Regions from separate parts of the Homo sapiens genome. Here region 2 is linked to region 1. A link means that fine-mapping ties the variant in region 1 to the expression of a gene that starts in the linked region. Tissue or cell type: blood mononuclear cells. Region 1 holds a variant in brackets; the other region holds the start of a gene. All regions are shown on one strand. Distances are from middle to middle. Region 1 overlaps DENND1B (DENN domain containing 1B). Region 2 holds the start of DENND1B (DENN domain containing 1B).

Region 1 (11,916 bases):
TAAAACCAGTGTTGCAAAATTCTGCACTTCCTACCCAATTCCATCCTACCTATCTAAATGTATTTCCCACCAACTCCAATGCAAATTTTCTACTCAATCCCAGTGTCTTTTCACATAAATAAAATTTATTCCCAATTTCAAGGATTTACTTATACTCCAACACATGCTGCACCCCCTTCTGAAATCCTATGTTCACTTTTCTCTGTCTCTCTAAAATCAATACATTATTCCTGATCTATGCTATGAGACCTTCCCAAAATACTACAACCACACAGACTATCCCACTTCCAGACAATAACCATCGCTACCAAACCATCTTATTTGTGTCTCCTCATTTAAACAAAGCTCCTAAAAGCCAGAATCATGTTTCAAATTTTAATGTACACTTCATAAAGGCAGCTTTTTCAGTTTTTTATTGAGTATATTTTCCATTCTTTCCATTCAATGGATATATATAATGCAAATAAAATTATTCCCTATCATATCAATTTTTCACAGTAAATGTCATAAACTTTATTTGCTTATTTTAATGTGCTTATTTTAACAAGTAGCTGGCTTACCCTAACATAAACCTGATCAATTCTGATTTAAAGGTAATATAATAAATCAAGTAATCCTTAACACCAAAGAGAGGGAAGTGATCTGCCCTTATTTTCACTACATATTTTCACTAAAGATAACAAGCAAATGAGCAGAGTAAAGCTATTACTAATTAAGAAAGCCCCATACTTCAAGAAAGAAATAGGCAATTAAATAGTAATCATGTAGAATAAATAGTAATTATACAAATTATCCTTGGGCATTTGCCACTGACGTGTTTTTAGTTAGCCCCCATAATGTACAGCACAGTACCTCTCAAGCTTTTTGGTCTCAGGACTGATTTATTCTCTCAAATATCACTGAGGTCGTCAAAGAACTTTTGTTTAGGTGAGTTATAGTAAATGACATTTATGTATTAAAAATCAAAACTTAAAAATTAGTAAAGCACAAAAATCTTCAAGTACACACTTCATTAGTCATCAGAGTTATAACTTCATCATGTCCTGAAGCCTATGCAAAAATCTACCATATACTTGTGAGAAATGGGAACGAAAAAGGCTAATAATGCCTCACTACTACGAAAAAAGTTCTGACCTCACAGAACTCCTGAAGTACTCCAGGGAACCGCCACAGACCCCTAGACTACACTTTGAGAGCCAGAGGTATATCACAAAGAATTTTAAAAACAGATTAAAATAATGTTTTTATGTATGGTATAAAACTTGTTTTCTAATTAAGATTTTCTTTAAAACCTGAGAAAAAGTCAAGGTATAATTATTTATACCTTATATATTACACAAATATAGTCCCTTTTTACAGGTAGAAAAGACAAAGGGGAGATTTCAAGGTTAAATGCCTTTAGGATATATAGGTAATAAAAATGAGTAGAGTGAGCCTACAAAAGACAGACTATAAAAGGACATGTAGTAAAAAATAGATCCCATTCCCCTTCCCAAAAAAGCAACCATTATTCAGCTCCATCCATGTGGAATGTGGGCCCAGTGTTGACAGATACTTTTGATTTTTCAAGAAAATCCAGAATATTTATGAAAACAAAATCACCTAATTTTTAAGTTGGGAAAAATAATTAAACATTTCATGAATACCATGTGAGCCAAATAAGGTGTGTCAGGGGGCCATTATTTTTTATCTCTGTATTATGACATGGGAACTTAAATTGGAAAAGAAAAAATTCTTTACGGTTAATCACATGTTTAAAGTAAAGGGCTACTTGAATTTTTTAATCTGTTACGGTGGCTTTTAGACTGAAAATAGTTTTTATCTAATTTTTTTCAAATGTGCCACACTAAATGCAGGAAAATTAATCCTAATTTTGCAGATTCTAAGGTTAACATTTTAAAAGAAAATGAACATGGACATTATTAAACCTGTTTCCTTGACCTTAAGAACTTTTAAAAAAATAAGTTAGACACAAGTTGTTTAATCAGAATTGGTACATATATAAATTATATATGTATATTATTTGACATTTTTGAGATGTCTGAATTTTATAGGCACACTATCAAAAGAAAATACAATCTCAGAATAGGGTTGATCACTTTAAAAATTAGCTTACTAGAGCCCATAATGTTGATATTACCATATGACAACTTCATGATTCAACATAAAGGACAACTGAAATCTGGGAGGATACTGGCTACTAGAAAGTTTCGAGGAATAGCAGACACTACTTTATTCTGGTAACTTCTTGAGAGTATTTACATCACAACTTGTAAGAAACAATGAGAAAATGAGACATCCAAAAGGATTAAAACAGATTAGCAAAGAACTCATAAAGAGAAGAATTATGTCCTTTGGAACAACAAACAGAATCACACATTTAGAAAAATAATTATTGGCTGAGAAACTATAGCAGGAAAACAAACTGAAAGAAAAAGAATAAATTTGAAATTCATGACCTCAGACCAAAAATATGCTTATATTTGTTGTATATTCTAATACTAGTCTATCCTCTAGGAAAGTGAGCAATTAATTCCCATTTAGGTTGTCCTAAAAAAAAGTAGTAAGGAAGTAAAACAATAAAAGAGTTGGGGGATTATCATTTGAAGTCTAAAACTTTCAGTAGTATATAATTATATCTTCAGTGAATTCTTAAAGCATTCACGGCATGGTAGTTACGTGGCTGGATACTGAAGTCAAACTTCATATAGACATGCCATGCATTGTCATTCACTCATTATACACCAGGGGCGTCCAATCTTTTGGCTTCCCTGGGCCACAGTGGAAGAAGGAGAATCATCTCAGGCCCCACATAAAATATACTAAAAATAGCTGATGAGCAAAAAAAAGGAAAAACTTTTAAAATGCTGTAAGAAAGTTTATGAATTTTTTGGCCACATTCAAAGCTGTCCTGGCCACATGCAGCCTGCAGGCCATAGGTTGGACAAGCTTGCTATACATGATCTTTCTCAAGCTACACAGCACTCTGTGCCTCACTTTTCTCCAATGTAAAGTAGTGATAATAGCAGTACCCACCTTGAGAGATGTTGATAGGATGAGTGGAGATTACATATATTCACTATATCATTATATGCATTCACTATCACTATTCGCTATCACTTTATTCATCATTGTAAGGCGAGATGGAAAAAATGCTGAGATACTGATGCAGAAATTTGACCATAGTGAACAGAGGTAATGCATTAAGCAAAATGGTAGGTTATTACTGGCTCTTTCTTTCTCTTCATATAAATTTACCTCCCCTCACCCAGGACCTTCCCAAGTCTGGTCACTTGTTTTGTAATGCCATCCTTCTATACTTCTGTCTTAAAAGAGTAATTCCTTAAGAAATTTTTACATTTATGGTCAACTAATTATTAGTTCAAAACTTAAGAGTGCTGCACAACAGCTCACCACCCATTCCTAACTGGCCCACCTATGTGTTTCACGTGTTCTTCTTTCCTTCAACTCACTCTCAACTTCTATTTTCTATACTTATCTCTTTGCCCTTACCTCATTATCACTCAATGGCCAGCACAATCTCTCCTCTCTGTCACCTTCTCTATCTCCTTTCCTCATTTTCTGTCATGGTAAAAGTGAAACTGGGTAACTACAGGAAGAAATGTGTATTGTTACCAAAGGGAATCGGAATAATAGAAGAAACATTAAGTTAGTTAAAAGACACCATGGCAGACTGATCCTTAGAATATGACTCAAATAATACAATATAAGCTGCTGCTTCCCCATATGCATAGTTATTCTCAGGAATAAGTTACATACATTAATACATCCAAGCAAGAAGCCCAAGTGCATAAAACCTTAATTATTGCTCAAGATTGATATGTGACTGACAAGAGGAGAAGCAATTAGTCCAGGTTGGTAAATAAAAGCAGACAGATGACACAGTTACTAGCAACTTAACTTCCATCACCTCTAAATGGACTGTAACTACATTCTTGGTATTGACAATGCCAATATAAGATCAGACAGAGCCTCCGGATTCTTTGTACACTAAGATGCAACCATCTCCTCCAAGGAGTTGTATAATAACACTGCCCACCAGACCTATGTATCAACAGAATAGGTATCAAAATGCCAAATACCAAATTGGAAAGAGTCTTAATTATGTACCGCAGATATGCAGTGTCCTACTTCTTTATTTCTATAGACAAACATGATCATATTAAACAAGGAAATTGGGGAAAAAAACAATGAAGAAAAAGGATCAAGATTTTGTACTCACACAACAAGAAAATAAATATTCAGAACTTGACAGAAGTCTATAATGGAGCTTTTTAGGAAAAAGAGTAAATACTAGACATCTACTGTTTCCTGCATTTATAGTGTGGTCTGCAATATACACTCTTCAAATTATGAAGTTTAAACACCTATGTTTAAGAATAAGCACAAAAAAAAATTAGAAATATGCATGTATTATTAGACCTCAAGTATCCACCCCTGACAGTTATTTGCTTAACCTGTTTTTATAAACACAGCATACAAACCTTGATGAATGTTTCTCCTGTTATTCTTCTACCTTACCCAACACTTTTTCCCCCTTACCAGCTTATTTTACGGTCAGAGGTTAAACTGCTAACCCTTCACCTTCCAGGAAAGTTTTTTTTCCTCTCTCATAAAAGGTTTTTCACAGTGTGCAGCAGTCGGATTAGCTCTTCTCTTCGAGAACAAAAGCTCTGTCTTTGTCTTCGTTGTTTGGGCATGGAGCCCCTACATCAGAGGAAGCTGCTCCTACTCAACATGCACAATAATGATATTGTGAGGCCCCACGAAAGCCTGGCCTCTCAGTGTCTAGACTCTCATCCAACCAGCTAGCCAAAGAGAAAATCCTGTCAAGCACTCAGCTGAAAATTAACTAAGGTATCCTGTTGAGAACCTGATGAAGATGTTATTTGACCATACGGTAAAACTTTCTATTGTTGAACATAAAGATAAGAGAAAAACTTTTAGAACTCAATGCTTTAACAATCCTGGTCACCAATTCACACATGGGTCAGTAAATGTATTTTACCAACATACAACCCCTTCCTCTATACGTGCTCTTAAAATAATACACAGGCTTATTTATGATATTCTAATCTCTTGCATTTAAAAATCTGTGCAACTAAAAGATACATTCAAAAAATTACAAGAAATTATATTTTATTTGCAGTATTTACATTAAATATTTATCATTAGAAATTCTGCTACTGTATTTTTCACTGAAGGACCCAATCAAAATGCAGAAGTCAAAATAAAACTGTCATATCTTTTCATATTCCTGAATAAGTTTTAAAATATTGAACAGAAGAGAAACAGTAAACTAAAAAGTAGATAACTGATTAAAACTTAGAAATGAAAAGAGTATATAAACCAAACCATTCTTATAAAAACTATCTGTAAATTTTTTAACCTGTAAAAAGTTAAACACATTAGATAAATTTAAATTCAGTCATATGATGGTAGTGAAAGATAATTCTCTCAAGTATATTAAGTTATGGTTGAGTTCATGAATATTTACAAGGGGCTTTGGGGACTGCTGCAGTTTATGAAATATTTTGTAATTTAAACCAATAGCAACAACAAATATTGAAAATTAAGTGAAAACTATATATGATTACAACCACATTTAATAAGCTCATATTGAAATCTAAAAAGGAATACACAAAAATAGATGTTTTGTGTTATTGGTATAAAAAGAAAAATCTTTTTCCTTCTTTCAAAATTGACTGCAATACATTACATTCGTAATTTAAAAAAAAAAACTTTGCAAAATAATCAGAATAGTTCAAAACCCTACAAACAGACAGCAATTAATGAAAGATAAGGGTGTAACTACTGTATACAGGATTCAGAATTAAAGAATACATCATTTGTTACATACTCCATAGAGTAATATAAATTGATTTCCCAAATTTTAGGAGAAACATAAATATGCTTTTTTTTTAACCTACAACAAACTTAACAAAAGAAATACATTTATTCATAAGGGGGAAAATAATCAATGCTTATACATAGCAGATGTCTGGCATGGAGGAGTATGTTCCTACTCTTTTAATAGACACATGAAAATCTAAGCCTGGCAAACAAAAATATTTAAATTAAAGACTCTGGAACACAGTGGATAAGTAAGAACTGGCAGAAAATGTTAAATATTTCATTCCTACTTCTGTAGAAAAAGCGGACAAAATTTTAACAAAATTTAAAAGAACATTTCATAAAACAATAATATGCAATTTTAAGAAAATAGATTTGGTTAAATCTATATTATATATGAATAATACAAAAGTTAACAGAAAGGTACAAAAAACAATATTGAATGGGTCCAACATGCCTACCATTGAGTATCTTTTACATCAATGAATTAGCAATCTGTAAAATGATTACAGTACCAAATACATCCACCCAAATACTGGAGGCAGAATGGCTTTATTCTACTATACCTCTGCTTCAAGTGGTTTTATTTCCTCAGAATGCTACACAGCTCCACCTTGGCTTTTGGCAATTAAACTAAATAAAATTTAAAAGTCCAAGACCTCAGAGAATTCACTGTTAAAAAAAAATACTCTGAAGCTACTTCTCATGGGTTCTCGGGTACATTTCCTTTGTTAGAAGAAGTGATCTAAAGTTTTGCTTAACAGTTTATGTTTACTTTAGTGTGAACTATGAAACATTCCATTTACAAAGTGTTCTTAGACTTTTATGAATTCTAAAGGGTATTACT[C/T]GAAAATACAGGTTGGGGCCATCTTTTCTCCTCCCGTGGAGCTGCCGCCATGAAGGTCGAGCTATGCGGTTTCAGCCGGTACAAGGTCTACCCCGGACACGGGAGGCGCTACGCCAGGACCGACAGGAAAGTTTTCCAGTTTCTTAATGCAAAATGCGAATCGGCGTACTTTTCCAGGGGGAATCCTCGGCAGATAAGCTGGACTGTCCTCTACAGAAAGAAGCACAAAAAGGGACAATTGGAAGAAATTCAAAAGAAAAGAACTTGCCGAGCAGTCAAATTGCAGGGGGCTATTACAGGTGCCTCTCCTGCTGATATAATGGCCAAGAGGAATCAGAAACCTGAAGTTAGAAAGGCTCAACGAGAACAAGGTATCAGGGCTGCTAAGGAAGCAAAAAAGGCTAAGCAAAGTATCTAAAAACACTGCAATGGCTGCTGTTAAGGCACCTACAAAGGCAGCACCTAAGTAAATGATTGTGAAGCCCGTGAAAGTTTCAGTTCTCGAGTTGGTGGAAAACGCTAAACTGGCAGATTAGATTTTTAAATAAATATTGGACTTAAAAAAAAAAAAAGAAAATATAGGTTGGAATACTGCAAAACAACCCACTCTTTTGATTTCAAGCTCAATTTTAAGCTGCAGATTCCAACTTTTATTGAACTTGAATAGCAAAAATTTTGAGTCAGAGATAACATAAGATCTACTCATTTTGAGACTTGGGATTAAATGGTTTGCCCAATTCTTTCTACCTGTCTGTCTGTCTCTCTATCTATCTATCTATCGAGACAGGATCTTGCTCTCTTGCTCAGGTTGGAGTACAGAGGCACAATCATAGCTTACTGCAGCCTCAGTTGAGGCTGCCTCAGCCTCCCAAATAGCTAAGACTACAGGCGTGTGCCACCACACCCAGCTAATTAAAAAATAATAATAATTTGTACAGACAGGGTCTCACTATGTTGTCCAAACTGGTCTTGAATTCCTGGCCTGAAGCAATCCTCACACCTTGGCCTCACAAAGCACTAGGATTAGAGGTGTGAGCCACCATGCACAGCCTCTTATGTTTTAAATTAAAATAATAAATTCTATGTATGTCATAAAAATCATCCCTGAGATAATCTGTGATAAATTTGTTACTGTAACCTTTCCTTACAAATGCCCATACTGCATTCCTGTTGTACTGGAATGTCTATTCATTAGCCCCAAGGCTCTACTGATCTTGCTTGCCTTTCTCTTAGACTGCTATTCAGATTTTTGTTATACCACTCATTCTGAAAACAGCTTCCTTTTTATTTGCGACTGCTGAGTACACACCCAAGCATCTATTCTTTTGAATGTCTCTTTGAGACTACTTCATAAATGAGATTTCTCAATACTAGCATTTATGCAAGACATCAAAACTATTGCTATGTCTCTTGAAAATCACTGAAGACTGACTAATTGCACATAAAAAAGCCTATTCTGAGTCTAAATCATACTTCATCTTTGATAAGCCCTCATCCATTCCTAACTCTATCCCAGTTCTTCCAATTGCACACATAGGGCATATCAGAGACACTGCTCCTTTCCTACAATCAGCTATAAGGCAGCACACCAATAAACCTGACAGCAACATCTCCAACAGAATAGTGGGAAAATCATCTGCCCTATGTCGAAGTGGTTGGATCTAAGCACCACCATAGCCCTATTCCTTTAGACAATGGCTTCAAACTTTCAGATGCATAACAATCACCTGGGAAACTTTTTCCAAAATGTAGATTACACTCCCACCTCCATCCTTAAAATAATCAAAGTATGTCCCAGGATCCTGACTTCTCAATAAATCATCTATAGCTCTAAATCACATACTGACAAACACTGAATAGCAGCTCTTTCTAAACACTTGTGGACATCTGTCTAGCAACATTAAACATTCCATCTTGGAGGTATGACAAAACTCCACAGGCCCCTGAAAACAAGGAGATTTTTTGCACTCTATTAGACTTGTTTGCCTCTATCTACTAAGCATTATAGGAGATTCTCCTACTTAATCATTACGGTGAGAATGCAACAATGATTCTTATTCATTTTTAGGCCTTTTCTTAGCTAGACAAGAAAAACATTCACATAGGTATCCAGGATCTAATTTACTACAGGTAGGGAAGCCTCAAGATTCTAATTATGTAAAAATTGGTGAATTTAAAAATAAATACTTAGAATTCTGCTTCAAAAAAAGAAAAACAAGTAAAGCTATGTCTTCCTGTTGAGTTACAATACACATCTCCCTTTAGTCTGGTAGAACTGTGTTTTCCAATCACCTTGAGGAAATAAAGCATTACTTAGTTCTAAGATAAAATTTCCAGTATTATGCTGAAATTTTATTAGAAAGGAGAGGGTAACATAGATATCTGACCTGGAAGCAGATAACCCAGCTCATTTTCTTCCCGCAGGTTTTGATTGCCTCCTAATTTCCTATAATTTATTGTCCCTATTTACTTTCCCCTTCAACTGTATTTACACAGATTTCTCTGACACCTGTTTATTACATTTCTTCTCCTCTCTGTCACTGATCCAGTATGAATTAGCATGCATGAGTACCCTCTGTTATATAACAGGACAAAGGGGAGTATCTAATATTATAACTGGAAAAGAAGCTTTCATGACAAATGATTTTGAACCAATGCTGAATTTTGAATTTAAGGTGCTATTTTTCTCATTTAGACATAGAAGTATTTTCCTTTCAAAGCCAAAAAATATCAACATTAAATCCACATAGAGAATGACAGCCAGGTCACAACAATTCCCTCGTTTCTGGGAACTACATCTTATACCCAGGGTGGGTTTTCAGTAGTTGCATCCACAATTGGTGAATGTGACCTCAGGCCAGAGCTGATAAGTCAAACACATGACCTAATCTGGCCAGTTTCTTTCTCATAGAAGACTTGGGTTATTAACTGTGAAACACAACATGGAAGATGCTGATGCAGAATCACTTTTTGGCAGAAAGATGACAGAAGATCCTCAGAACTTCCATGGTAACTATATTCCCAAACATTATTTACCCATGTACTTAGTTACCATAGCTTTTCTTCTAACCATAGATGCAGAATGTTAAAGCAGCACTTTTACATCCATAAACAGGACATCTGCTTCCAGCCAAGAGAAAGTACAAACTGTATTTGCTCTCTCTCTAACAACTAAAAATCTAAAAAAATACATTAAACAATTTTCAGACATTAGTAAATGCAGGACAGTGATCCCTGACAGAGATAAAACAAACAAGGTAAGCCTTACAATTGGTCTTAATATCTGGAGTTTCCAGGATGTGGCACAAGGTGGGAGAAACCCAGGCAGAGCCCAGTGGTCTTCCTGAGATGAGGTTGGAAGGCCAAAGCATCTAGACTCCACAAAGAGAACAGAGACGAAGCTGCACAGGAATAGAGCTCTGGAGAGCTGCAGAAGGTTCACCACCAACCCACCCAAGACTTTAGTGCTGATGATCAGTGCACACATATGAGGAAACTACCAGACACTGAGGAAAGAATCACCCAAAAGAAATGGGGGGGAAATCCCAGGATCAGCTGACATTCACACCACCCAGAGTGGGAAAACCTCATAATCAACAAGAGTATCCTGTACAGTACTCAGAGGGTAACACCTTAGCAGTGGGACAAAATCAGCACTGGACTGAAGATGACTCTGGTTTCACCTACCAAAGCTTAAAAGCAAGCCTCAAATGTTCAAACTGTTTCCAAATAACTTAACTGTAATCTAAAACAAAACCTTAAGTGCATATGGGACATATACGAGAAGAAATCATATAATGCACCATAAAGCAAGTCCTAACTGATTTAAAAGGATTCAAGCCATACCATGATATTCTCTGGAATTACATTATCAAAATATAACAGAAACATCACAGGAAAATCCCCAAATATTTGTAACTTAAATAACATACTTCTAAATAACCCAACGGTCAAAGAAGAAATCAAAAGGAAATGAAAATCTAAATGAACTCTAAATGAAAATAAAAACAAAACTGATAAACTGATCAAAAGAAAGGACTATTCTCTGTGAAAGACAATGTTAGTTAAAAGCATGAAAAGACAAAATACAGATGGGAGAAAAAAATGCAAATCCAACAAAGTCATTGTATCCTGGATATATTAAAATCTTTCAAAACTCAGTAATAAGAAACCAACCCAATAAAGAAAATATAAGAGAAAGAGCTGAACAGACATTTCACCAAAGAAGATATACAGATGGAAAATAAGCAAATGATTTCATCTTAATAAAACATAATTGAGTCTTAAAATGCTTCCACCAATTTCTAAGAAATCAGACCTTTACCTCTAAATTAGAATATGTAATGTGCTAAGATATTCTTAACAGTTCCTTTCAGTTACCCTATGAAAATTTTGCACTATCAAATATAATTTTGCATCAGCAAAGACAATCACTACAGCCCTGAACTTGTGTTTGATTTGGGGCTGGGCAGGCATATAACCTAATTATGAGCGCAAAAGGAAGGAGAGTGCGATTTTAATTCTGTTAAGTTGGTTAAAGTGAGACTCACTGACAATGAGCAAAAACTTGAAAAAGGTAAAGAAATTACTTGTGCAGATATCTTGGGAAAGTGTATTAGAAGTAAACAAAAAATGCAAACCCTTGAAGGAGCATGCTTGATGTTGTTCCAGGGATAGCAAGAAGCCAGTGTGGCTGCAGTTAAGAGAGCAAGGGAGAAAAGTGGGAAAGGATGAGGTTAGAAATGTAAACAAGGGGGATTTGAGCCAGTTATATGGAGCCTTGTGGGTCCCTGGCAAGTCTTTTATTTGAATGATTTGAAAAGGCAGAGGGATGAATAAAAAAGGAATTATGAGCAAGAGATCCCTATATGGGGAAGACTGAGTCTCAGAAAGTCAAGGTTTGAGAATTGAGGTTGTAGACAAATTTCTATTACTGTATCGAATATGCTACACAATATATTTTGAAAACTATCAAAAGGAAGATGAAATCCTTGCTTCAGTGAGTTGATAATGTAGTTGAAGAACTAAACAATAATACAATTAAAATGACAGAATGTTTAAATTACAAGGGGCTTTTGGATAGTCTATAGCTTTTGTTTACCTGAAGGAACTTGAGTCAAGAAAGGAAAAATGATTTATGCAAGATCATATAACTAGTTGTTGGTTCAGGCAGAACTAAATTGCCACCTTCATTA
Region 2 (11,916 bases), 41 kb after region 1:
ATTTGGCAAAAAAATTTACTTTTATAGCCCTCTTATAGTTATTGATTTTATTATTTATAGCTACTAATTTATCATTTGTTATTTATTATAGTTACTGATTATAGTTATTACTTGTTAGATCCTAAAATATTAGCCATATTCATACTATTTAAGTCATAATAAAAGAAGAAAGGTTACTGCTGCTTACATGGCTGAGTTTAGTTTTTTAAAATATCTTTAGAATTTTCTGCCATTTAGCCATATAGAATGGATTATTTGCAACCTACAAAGAAGCCAACATTATTTACTTTAACCATTTATCATATTTACAACTTTACCAGGCTAGATATAAACTGTTAAAATACAAATGAAGATGTTTCTAAAAAGTAGTGATTTAAATAACAACAGCAAAAAGACAAGGTGTAATATTAAAGCAGGGCAGAAGTAGAAGATACAAACTGGAATAACTAGCTCATGAAAAGTGGAAAAGAGCAAAAAGAGGAAGAAGGGAGTAAACCACTCAAAAGCCTTTATAAGAAGACCACAATCTCTCTGACACATGCATAGATTGGGTGTTATATAAGGCAAATTGATCTTTTAACAAGATCACTTTAATACACATTTAAAATTAGAGAATCCATATTTTCCAAGTGAAATTAGCCTGTTGTGTGTGTGTGTGTGTATATATATCTATAAATATATATAAAAATATATATCTATAAATATATATCTATAAATATATATCTATAAATATACATATCTATAAATATATATCTATAAATATATAAATATATATCTATAAATATATATAAATATATATATCTATAAATATATATAAATATATATCTATAAATATATAAATATATATCTATAAATATATATATAAATATATATGTAAATATATATCTATAAATATATATAAATATATATCTATAAATATATATCTATAAATATATGTATCTATAAATATATCTATATATCTATATAGATTTTTTTTTTTTTTTGAGACAGAGTCTCACTTGGTCACCAAGGCTGGAGTGTGGTGGTGCTATCTCGGCGCACTGCAACCTCCACAACCCCAGTTCAACTGATTCTCGTGCCTCAGCCTCCCCAGTAGCTGGGATCACAGGCATAGGCCACCATGCCTGCATAATTTTGGTATTTTTAGTAGAGATGGGGTTTCACCATATTGGTCAGGCTGGTCTCGAACTCCTGGCCTCAGATGATCTGTCCACCTCGGCCTCCAAAAGTGCTGGGATTATAGGCGTGAGCCACCGTGCCACGCCTTTACAAGCAATATCAGATGAGCGTTACTTCACGCACCTTCGGTAATGTTGTGGTAGATATTTTTTAGATTAACTTATATCATAAACCACTATAGAATAGAATTAAATTGGAGCTGAAAACATAATGTATCCATTTGAGTATCCATTCTACCTAATATATCCATTCTTCAAAGAGGACCCGGTTGGGGCTCAAAATAATGCAAATGGACAAACTTTACTACATACAGGACAATAAAAGATAACTTCATCAACTAGAAAAGGCTCCCTACAACCTAGGATCACTCCTTGCCAATAGACAAACCTGACCACAGCTGCAGTTCAGATAGACCAGGAGTACAGTAGTAGGGCTGGTGGAGCCAACAATATGTGACTTCATACTAAAATTAGCCATGCCCATTTCACCACAACTGGGTTGGGCTTCTCTATTTTAAGGTGTGCAGCTCCAAATTACTTAAGAGTAGGTAATTGCTGGATAGTTTCTGAAGCTAAAATTGTCAGCAGACTTTCCTCCAAGGCTTTAGGATGGCCAATCAGTCTCCACGAAACCCCTATGCTTAATCATCATGCTATCCAGGGTCTAAGCACACAGCAAGTAAAGACATATACTTTAAGTATCTAGAAAGACATACCATGCAAGAACACATTAAAAGAAAATAGGCAAGAAAAGAATTCCTTATTCTTGTCTGCTAACCCTGCCGCCTACCACACATATGCACAATACACAATATGACAAAAGTGGAGGGAAATGATGAAAATCATGACATTAAAGTATTATGCTCTCATCTTTTCAGGAAATTGTACGGAACTGACAGCTGAAACCCTTCCAAGTAATTTCACACTATCGTTTACCTCCCTGCAAAAGTGCTGTGCTATTGGAGTAAATCCAACAGAAGGGGCTACTCAGTCTGCATTCTGCGTTCTGGAAACATCAGAAGGGAAGTGGTGTAGTTTCCATTGGTACTAGCAGGAGAATGTGCACTAATGTTTAAAAAAAGACACTAAATTTCCAAACATAAATGAAAGAAAATGAAAAGATTCGCCCTTTCACCAAAACTAATGATAACTTTACCAACGAATGGTGAAGCTGAGTTGTAAGTTATATGGGCTTAACAACACACCTGAAATTCAAGCTGCACTGATAACATTCATGATTTTTACAATCCCAGGGCAAAGACTTAACACCTATTTTATTACCAGCAACTTGAGACACTCAATGCAGAATACACATTTAGTAGTATTATTTTCCTATTACTACCATGTTCCAGCAGTCCACAATATTAACACTTGCTTTGACAGATTCAATCAATTATTTTAAGAATTAACAGAACAGGCCAGGCACAGTGGCTCACGCCTGTAATCCCAACAATTTGGGAGGGCAAGGTGGGTGGATCACTTGAGCCCAGGAGTTCAAGACCAGCCTGGGCAACGTGGTGAACCCTGTCTCCACAAAAAAATATACAAAAATTAGCTGAGCATGGTGGTGTGCATTGGTAGCTCCAGCTACTCGGGAGGCTGAGGTGGGAGGATCACCTGAACCCGGGAAGGAGAGGTTGTGGTGAGCCCTGATCATGCCACTGCACAGCCTGAGGAACAGAATGAGATCTTGTCCCAAAAAAAAGAGACCTTGTCAAATAACAGAACACAGAAGACACATACCTTCATTTTCAGAGGCATGACATTTCACTTTCAACACCAAGTCAAAGGTTCTGTCTGGATTTGCCCTAAAAGGAAAAAGTTTAAATTAATTTCCTATGACAAATAAACATCTCCATGAAACTTGTATTTTCTTAATTCTAAAACTAATCTTGTTTTTGTCTCAATACATTTCACGTGACTGTATTACTACAGTATAGTAGAAATAACAATGAAACTGTTTTCTCAATTGAGCAACTTAAAAGAGCTGAGACTTAGGAATTCTGAAACTTGGGGCAAAGCATTTAAACGCTGAGACTGTTCTCCCTTACCTATGAGGTGCCTTGTCCACTTCACAGAATAATAGTGAGGATTATAAATCAAATAACATATGTGCAAGTACTTCATTAAGTACTAAGTGCTACAAAAATGCAAAGTATTGGTTTTATCTTATTGGATCAAATTTAAAAGCCAGAGTGTCCCTAAGTGTCATTATACCCTGCCAACAGAGTTTGACACAGGTTCTCAGGCTGTCTCCAAAGGACTTGCAATATAAGTGTAAATGATGAATACATGGTTCCACCTGCCAAGTTCTAGATCACCATAAAACATTGATAATGCTCCATGAATGTGATACGTTGCATATACTTTTCTTAAAATGTATTTACTGTACTTATGCATATTTAAAGTAGCAAACTATTCATAGCTCTAAGGCTAGCAACATAAAAAGCCTTCTTTTTATCCATTATCTTTGGAGAAACCAGCCATCTGCTTCCATGTTAGATTTTCCCACTAGAAACTGTAAGTTTACTTTGCTTAATTCAGAAGTTATTGACTTTTTTACTAACTTGCCATATTTGCAAAATTTCAAAGCAACATTGGTTAAATTTCAAAAAGTGAACTGAAATATACTGAGACACTTTTTCTTCATAACATTGCTGTTTAAATCTCTCGTTCCATCATAAGGTAAAAGATTAAGTCTGTTACCACAACGGCCAATGTGTTAATATCTCAGTTATTCCTGCTAACAAGACCTTAGTGCCTTTGTACATTGGCTGTATTTAATATGTACTTCCTTCAAGAAACGAATGCCAGCTCTGACTTTAAAAAAAAGCATTTCTTTTTTTGGAAGCTTTTCTTATAAGATATGAATCTGGAAACATAGGAAGTGACAAGACATATAAATTAACATGCAAATATACATTTTTTTAGCCTTTCCGCTATTAACTTGTTTCAATGGGAATAATCTGGGCTCAGATGACTTCCTCCCTCTTAAAACAATTAATGTCAAGAAGCATACTATTTTTACTCACTTACCCTGCCCACCATGATGTCAAACACACTGAAGAAAATAATTCTATTACATAATTTCCCTCTTTCCCTAATATTCTTTAGAATTTCTCTTAGGTGTAAAAGTTAAATATTGACTCAGTTTTACTTCTGTGAAATTCAAACGGCCTTTCACAATAATACAAATATACATGGCATTATTTTAAACTTTTTGAGAAGGAGATAGTAAAGGGTGGGTAAGCGAAGTAAAAAGGAATTCTTTCCAAAGTTAAGTTTCAGAAGAAAAATATAAAACTCATGCCTCTAAGATACCTAGAAACAAAATCACCACCGTTATTAAAATTGCTTTTTACCTAATCTCCTGAGCAAAGTAGTCGTTGATAAATACTTTAGCACACACATAAAAGTACCCTCTAATTGGATACCGTTTTGCAAGAACCATGCATCTACAGTTGCTGCATAAAGAAACACCAGAGACCAATCTAATTTTATAAGCAGAATCATAAGAAAACATCCAAGACAAAAGTAACAAACGGACTTAAGAAAACACCGGTTATATTTAATGCTCAGAGAGCACTCGGAATAATAACCTCTTAACCTCAACGCTGACTCCCTCCCGGACACCACACGCACACAGGCAGCCCCAGGAGAGTCACATCTGACACACTCGGGGGAAGCACGAGAACCCCTCAGCGGCGGTGTCAGGGGCCGCCCGGCCTCCCCTGTCCCCCGAAAGGCGGGCGTCGACAAGGCGCTAGTGGCCTCTCCGGGAGGAGCCGCGCCAACCACGGAGGGCCGGGGACGCAGGGCGGGCAGGCTTTGCGGCCTAGCGCCGTCCCGCCGGCCGGCCAGAGGCTTGGGGGCCGGACCGCACCCCCAGCCCGCCCGGCCAACCTCGGCCGCCCGGGGAGCCGGTTGAGCGCGGAGGCGCGGAGGAGCCGAGCTGGCCTGGGAGGGGCCGCCGAGGGACGCCCGCCCCCGACGCGCCCGGGCCCCCCCACTCACTTGGTCCTGCAGTCCATGGTTACATGTCGGTGTGGGGCTGTCCGTCCGGCCCCCGCGCGCTGGCCTGGAAGCCCGCAGCCCGGCCGCGCGAGGGTCGCGCCGTCCCCGCCCACGCCGGCGGCCACACAGGGAAAGAGGCTGCTCACAGCAGCCGTGGCGGCGGGCCCATGTCGGCTGCGCCCCCGGCACTTCCCCGCCTCCCACCCCACCCACCAGAGCCTTTCTGTGACAGCAGCGGTGGCGTGGCCGCCGCCCCCGTCTCCGCCGGTAGCCGCCACCAAAGCTGAGGCCTCTCAGTTCCTGCGACCGGGGCCGCCCGCTGCGGCTCCTGCACCTTCTTGCAAATCAGGAAGTCGCCGGGAGGGGGAAGGGGCGCGCGGGGACGCGCCCAGCGGCTTCACCTGGGCCGTGCGGCTCGCAAGTCGGAGACTGTGGAGGAGGCGGGGGCCAGGTCCCCGCGCCCGGGCGGCCAGAGGGTGCAGGGGGAGCGCTAGTGCCTGCTGGGATGGCCCACGTACCGCTTTGCCACCTAGCCAGAAAGGCAAGGTGCCCCCTGTGTCCTCAGCATGAACCAAACCGGCTTCCTTTCTGGGTCCAGTCCAGATTCCAGGGCGTCGGGGCTGCAACCCCACAAAGGGCGAAGTACCTGGAAAAGTACCTCGACCTGCAGTGTTTTCCACACACATACACACGGACTTGGGTTCCTTTCATTTCATACTACAAATTCAGAGCTCAAGTTGATGCCCCTGGCTCTTGCGTCACTCCAGCTGTGGCCTGCTTACAGCTCTCTGAAATCCAGAGCTACCCCCTCCTGATTCAGGAATGTTCAGACATGTGCACCTGCTAAATAGCCCTGTCAAGTAGCCAAATGGTAGTGCCCCACTTGTCTGCGCATGTGGGAGGCAGACATTCCTATACCACAGACTGCAGTGATAACCAAGGACTAACTTTTGAACACATGTACATAGTCGCAGGCCTCATAGTCTGGCAGTTTAGGCGAGTTCAGAGAGGGCACCACTGAATAAGCGTGGGAGGGACTGATTTACACAGCCCTAAAGCACATGTGAAGCAGGTTATGTGCACTCTCACCCAGTACTTGTCATAGGTGTGTGATAGATACTTTCATCAGCATTTTACAGATGAAGAAACCAGGGAGTAATGGCAAAGCTGGAGTTCACACCAGGTCTATCTGATGCTGATTATTTACTTCTACCTCATATTGCCTGTCTCCCTCCTCTGCTGTCTCATATTTAGGATCTACTGAGAAGACAGGTAGAAAAGTCTTATGATGGACATTCAAATGACTGTGGAAGGCCAGGCTCTTACACAGAGATCTTCTGGGAAAGGCCTTCTCCCAGCTAACACTGCCACCCTTGACACATAGCCACAGTGTTTCTTCCAAAAGGTGGTTACTTCAGACTTTATTCATGCAGAAGTTAAGATGATGAGAGGAAACCAAATGTGGTATGAATGTAGTGTGAGTCATAAGACATAAAAGTCAGAAAAGGAGTCTTAAGAATTAAAAAACTCAAGAGTCAGAGAACCTGAAGTTGCACTCAGTTATATAACCTTAAACTTTCTTGCCAAAATTGGGTACTACTTGGTCAACAGGATCAGAAATATTGTATAGCCATGGGCCTGTTAGTAAAAAATGAGGACGGGCCATAACTGGGAAACAAACAAACAAAAAAAAAATGTGTTTATCATAAAGTGTTGTCATAGCTTGACTCGGGGTGAGACACTTCAGTTTCTCGGTTCCTACATTTGTAAAATGGGAATTATTACTTGTACATCACATGAGCAGTGTGATGTTCAAGTAAAACAGGTGCTACAAATTTGTATTATCTTTTGAGAAATTATTCTGTGAATTTCAGTTTCACAATTAGGCAAACTATACTACATAAGTTTTCTTTTCCCAAATAAAGATTTTTCTGCATAAGTGACCATACTCCAAAGCCTTGAAAAAAAAAATTCGTAAGCTAAAAGCCACTTCTGCCCCAACTGTTACTGAATTTCTCAAACTTCTCCTTTCATTATAATTAATTATTTCCAAAGAAAGGAACCCTACTTGGGGTGACCATATTGAGGACTTTTTAATTTGGTGTGAGGAGATAATAATACAATTGTTTTCCTCATCCATTGTTGGGATTTTATTTTAAATGACAGTCATACCCTTGAACAGTATAAAATTGTTCTTCATTCCATTTATGTTAAGTACATCGAGGGAAATACTACACATTCGCATCCCAAAGCAAATCTTTTTAAGTGAGCTTTTAGGCTGACCATAATGAAGAGATTTATCTGTTCTGTTATTACTGAAATAAAAGGGATAGGAACATAGGTGTACATGATCTACATGCATGAGGTGTTAAAAAATTAGAAAACAAATATCATACACTTACCTTGGTAATAGCTTTAATGAAATCGATGGTATAACTTTAGTAATACTCATTTCATATAGAACTTCCCATATGACTGATAGAGAAGTGTACAAAGGGCAAACCTTCAAATTAGTCTTAAATCTTCCCAAGATCATATTTCAGCAATGATATTTCCTACTCGACAATTAATATTAACAGTTTTCAGGACCATACCAGTCAAAGAACATAGTCTGTATTGTTGTCAAAGAACATGGTCTTTATTTATTAATTAATTTCTTATTAATTAATTAATTTAGTTAATTTTTTAAATGTTTCAAGACTTAAATGTTGTATGTGGTTTGTAAAGAATATATATTCTGCAGCTTTGGGGTACAGTGTTCTAAATATATGTCCATGATCAAATACGATGATTGTGTTGTTGACATCTTCTATTACTGAATTTGCATCTGCTTGACATAATTCAATTAATGGGAGAGATGAGTTTAAATATCCCAACATGATGGTAGATTTTTCTATTTCAGCCTATAGTTCTTTCAGGTTCTACCTTACACAGTTTGGGGCTGTGTAATAATATACACATCAGTTTATAATTTCTATATCTACCTAATAAATACAACCATTCATCATTATGTTGTTACTTTCTTTACCTCCAATCGTACTTTTGCCTTAGATTCTAAACAGTTTTCTTCTGAATAGTATTTGTCTGATGTTAGGATATCTCTTTTCATCCTTTTACATTCAAACTTTCTAAACCATCATGTTTCAAATTTATCTAAAATTTTTAGTCTTGATTTTTAATCTAGTCTGATCATCTTTAGCTCTTACATCAAACCCCTAGACAATTTGCATGTATTAAAACTGTTGATAAATTTAGGCTGGGCGCAGTGGCTCATGCCTGTCATCCCATCACTTTGGGAGGCTAAGGCGGGTAGATTAGTTGAGGCCAGGAGTTCAAGACCAGCCTGGCCAACTTGGTGAAACCCTGTCTGCTAAAAATACAAAAATTAGCTGGGTGTGGTGGGTGGTGCAAGCCTGTAGTCCCAGATAATAAGGAGGCTGAGGCTTCAGAATCACTTGAACCTGGGAGGCAGAGGTTGCAGTGAGCCAAGATCATGCCGCTGCATTGCAGCCTGGTTGACAGAGTGAGACACTGTCTAAAAAAAATTAAAAAAAAAAAAGAGAGAAAAATGCTGATAAATTTAAATCTATTTCTGCCATCTAATTTTGTACTTCCCGTTTGTTTCTTCTGATCTGTTTTTTTCTTTCACTTTTGCATTCTTTAGGATTACTATTTATGCTTTCATTTCTGCCCCCACCTCTTCTAGTTTGGAAGTTATTTACTCTGTTTCTATTCATTTAGGAGTTATCCTAGAAATTTTAATAGGTACATTTTAACTGATTAAAGCCAGAGTTCACAAGGATATCCACCCTCTCTCAAACAATACAAGAACCTCTAAAACCCCCTCAAAACTAAAATCCCCCCAAAAATGCATTATGAATGTTGTTTTATACAGTCCATGTTTGTTTAGATTTACTCAGAACTTTACCATTCTTTTGTATTTTCATTTTAGATCTTCTGTGTAGGATCACTTTCCTTCTGCCTAAAATTCTTTCCCTTTTTGTTTGAGTTGGAATGTATTTATTTATCCCTCACTCTTGAAAAATATTTTCACTGATGAAGAATTCAAAGTTTACTATTATTTCTTTCTGCATGTTATCAATATCATTACACTGTCTTCTAAGTTCCCTAATAACAATTGGAACTTTGAAAGTAATCTTAAAATGTCATCTGTTTTTTCTCTCTGACTGCATTTATGATGTTTCATTTTTGTCTTTAGTTTTCTATAGTTTCACTGTGAAGTATCTAGGTGTAGATTTTTATTCATCCATGTTTCTTGGTTTCTTTAATTTTCTTGACTCTGGATTGGTGACTTTCATCAGTTCTGGAAAATTCTGGACTCCTTTCTTTCCATTCCTTCTGGGACTCTGATAACACATGTGTTATTCTACCCTCCATGTTTGTCAAACATCTCTTTTATAGTATGTCTCTCTTTATCTGTCTACGCTGTATTCTGGAAAATTTCAAAAATATTCTGTTCACTAATTCTTTCTTCAGCTTTGTCTCATTTTCTGTCAAAGTCACCCATTTAGTTTTTAATTTATATTATTTTTATTTCTAAAGTTCTGTTTGGTTATTTTCCAAATCTGTATTCTCTTAACTCATATTTTCAGCATCTCTTTAATTTATTAAAAATATTTAATATATATACTTTAAATTCTATTTCTAAAAATTCCAATATCTGAAGCATTTGTGGGTCTGCTTCTACTAACTGATCTTTTTTCTACTTGTTCATACTTATGGTCTCTTGATTTCTTCTATGTATGTGATTTCTTTTTATGTTATGTGATCCTTAGAACTTTATATATAGAAATTGAGTGACAGCTGAAATGAAAATGAGTTCTCTGGAGAAGATATTAATTTACTGCTGGTAGATGCTTGGGATCACTAGCAATTCAGAAACATAAACACTAAATTCTCAGCTTGAAATTCTTCAGACCATTCATGTGAGACCTGGTTTGTAGCTATGAATCCTCTGGGAAGCTTTTTTCCCCTTAACTATGCTCCATTGTTTGAGACAATTGTCCTTGAATACCTTTGGGGTGTATCAGCTTTATGAAGAGTATCCTGTTGGATTTCCCACATTAGGAAGGGTCTGAAGACCCATAAGACCATGATAACAGTTCATGGTCTTCCAGTTCATCCAGCTTAGGAAAAACCCTAAAGATGAAGATGAAAGGTGGCTTTTCTTTTTTTTTTTTTTTTTGAGATGGAGTCTCGCTCTGTCGCCAGGCTGGAGTGCAGTGGCGTGATCTTGGCTCACTGCAACCTCCACCTCCTGGGTTCAAGCAATTCTCCTGCCTCAGCCTCCCGAGTAGCTGGAACTACAGGCACCTGCCATCACGCCTAGCTAATTTTTGTATTTTTAGTAGAGGCAGGGTTTCACCATGTTGGTCAGGACGGTCTCCATCTCTTGACCTCGTGATCCACCCACCTCGGCCTCCCAAAGTGCTGGGATTACAGAGAGAGGTGGCTCTTGTAGCTACTTTTATTTGTCCCCCATCCTCCACCCCTAAGTATTCTCACTTGATTGCCTGCTCTTCAATGCATTGCAAGCTTTTAAAAATACTTAATTCTGAATTTTTAGTTGATTTTCATGCAAGTTTTGATCAGACTATAATGGATAATTACTTGGTTCTGACTATAGTGTCATGTAAAATGGACTAATTGCAACTTTTTAATCCACCTAATAAGGTCCACTTTCCTCAAACCAGGTCCAAAAAGTCCCCAACTTATATATCCCTATATATTAATGGTGTAGAGAAACCCAAGTTCAGGGCTTTTAGTGAGCCAACTGCCCTGATTTCCAGTGTACTATGACAATTAGAAAGGTAACTCCTGGCTTCCCAACCCCAACCACTTATTCATTGAATCCTTGTAGTAATATGCCTTAAACAAAAGTGAAGAGTTACTGATACCCAGGACTACTAAAGTTGACAGCTCCTTTCCCTTCTGAATGCGAAATAATAAACACTATTGTAAACTCTAGAATGGTATTTTTAAAAATAATAATACTATTAATAATGCTTCAGGTTCAGTATAAATTAACTCGACTAGACTCATAAGCCTCACCAATGTATATGAAGATTTTGAGTTCCAAACAATTAACTTAGAAATGAATTTTTTGAGGCAAGCATCTCATGAGTTGTAGCTAACATGTATCCAAGTCAGGCATTTCCTAGACTAACTCTGCACAACCTCTTATTACTATTCTTAGGTGAAATTTATTAATAGTATTACCACCTTCATTTATTATAGAAGAAAAGTTATAAAGTATTTAACAAACTGAATTTATTGAAGCTCTTAGGAAACTATCTTTAAATTATTTTATCAGGACCTGCCTTTTAATATTGACTGAGATAGTGTTGTTAAGGAAAACATCCTCCTGGCATGTTGTCCTTTTTATACTTAGCAGCAATATCATGAATTTCAATCTGAAGGTAAAATCTCCCTCAACAAGACATGTGAAATACTTTTAAAATAAAGAGAAGATGGAGGTGGGGATTCGGGATCAATATCTTCCCTGAAAGTTTGCCTTTCTGAGTTGTTTCACACCTCAAAGCTCATAGAGTTAGCATTCTATGTTGATTTAAAATCCAGTTTAATAAAAATGTTGTCTTCCAGTTTGTGGACAAAAGAACTCAGATAAATTTTGACACCTTTACTACCAAATCTGAACATATCCAAATATTTCTAAAATTCAATGGGTCGATGATGATATTTG

What was found.
Region 2: DENND1B starts here. The variant in region 1 is fine-mapped to the expression of DENND1B in blood mononuclear cells (TOPMed, PIP 0.97).

The regions. Positions count from the first base shown.
Region 1 is chr1:197,728,866-197,740,781 of GRCh38, forward strand. All of the region lies in intron 2 of DENND1B (DENN domain containing 1B), which reads right to left. It also overlaps the pseudogene RPL24P5. Among named protein-coding and RNA genes, the nearest start is that of DENND1B, 41 kb to the right of the region's middle. The variant C/T (reference allele first, on the strand shown) is at 6,722.
Region 2 is chr1:197,769,947-197,781,862 of GRCh38, forward strand. It overlaps DENND1B (DENN domain containing 1B), which reads right to left and starts at 5,534. Exons shown (of 23, transcript NM_001195215.2): 1 at 5,193-5,534; 2 at 2,922-2,986. The coding sequence starts at 5,209. RefSeq lists silencers at 4,882-5,391, 5,542-5,741, 6,033-6,327 and an enhancer at 6,702-6,751.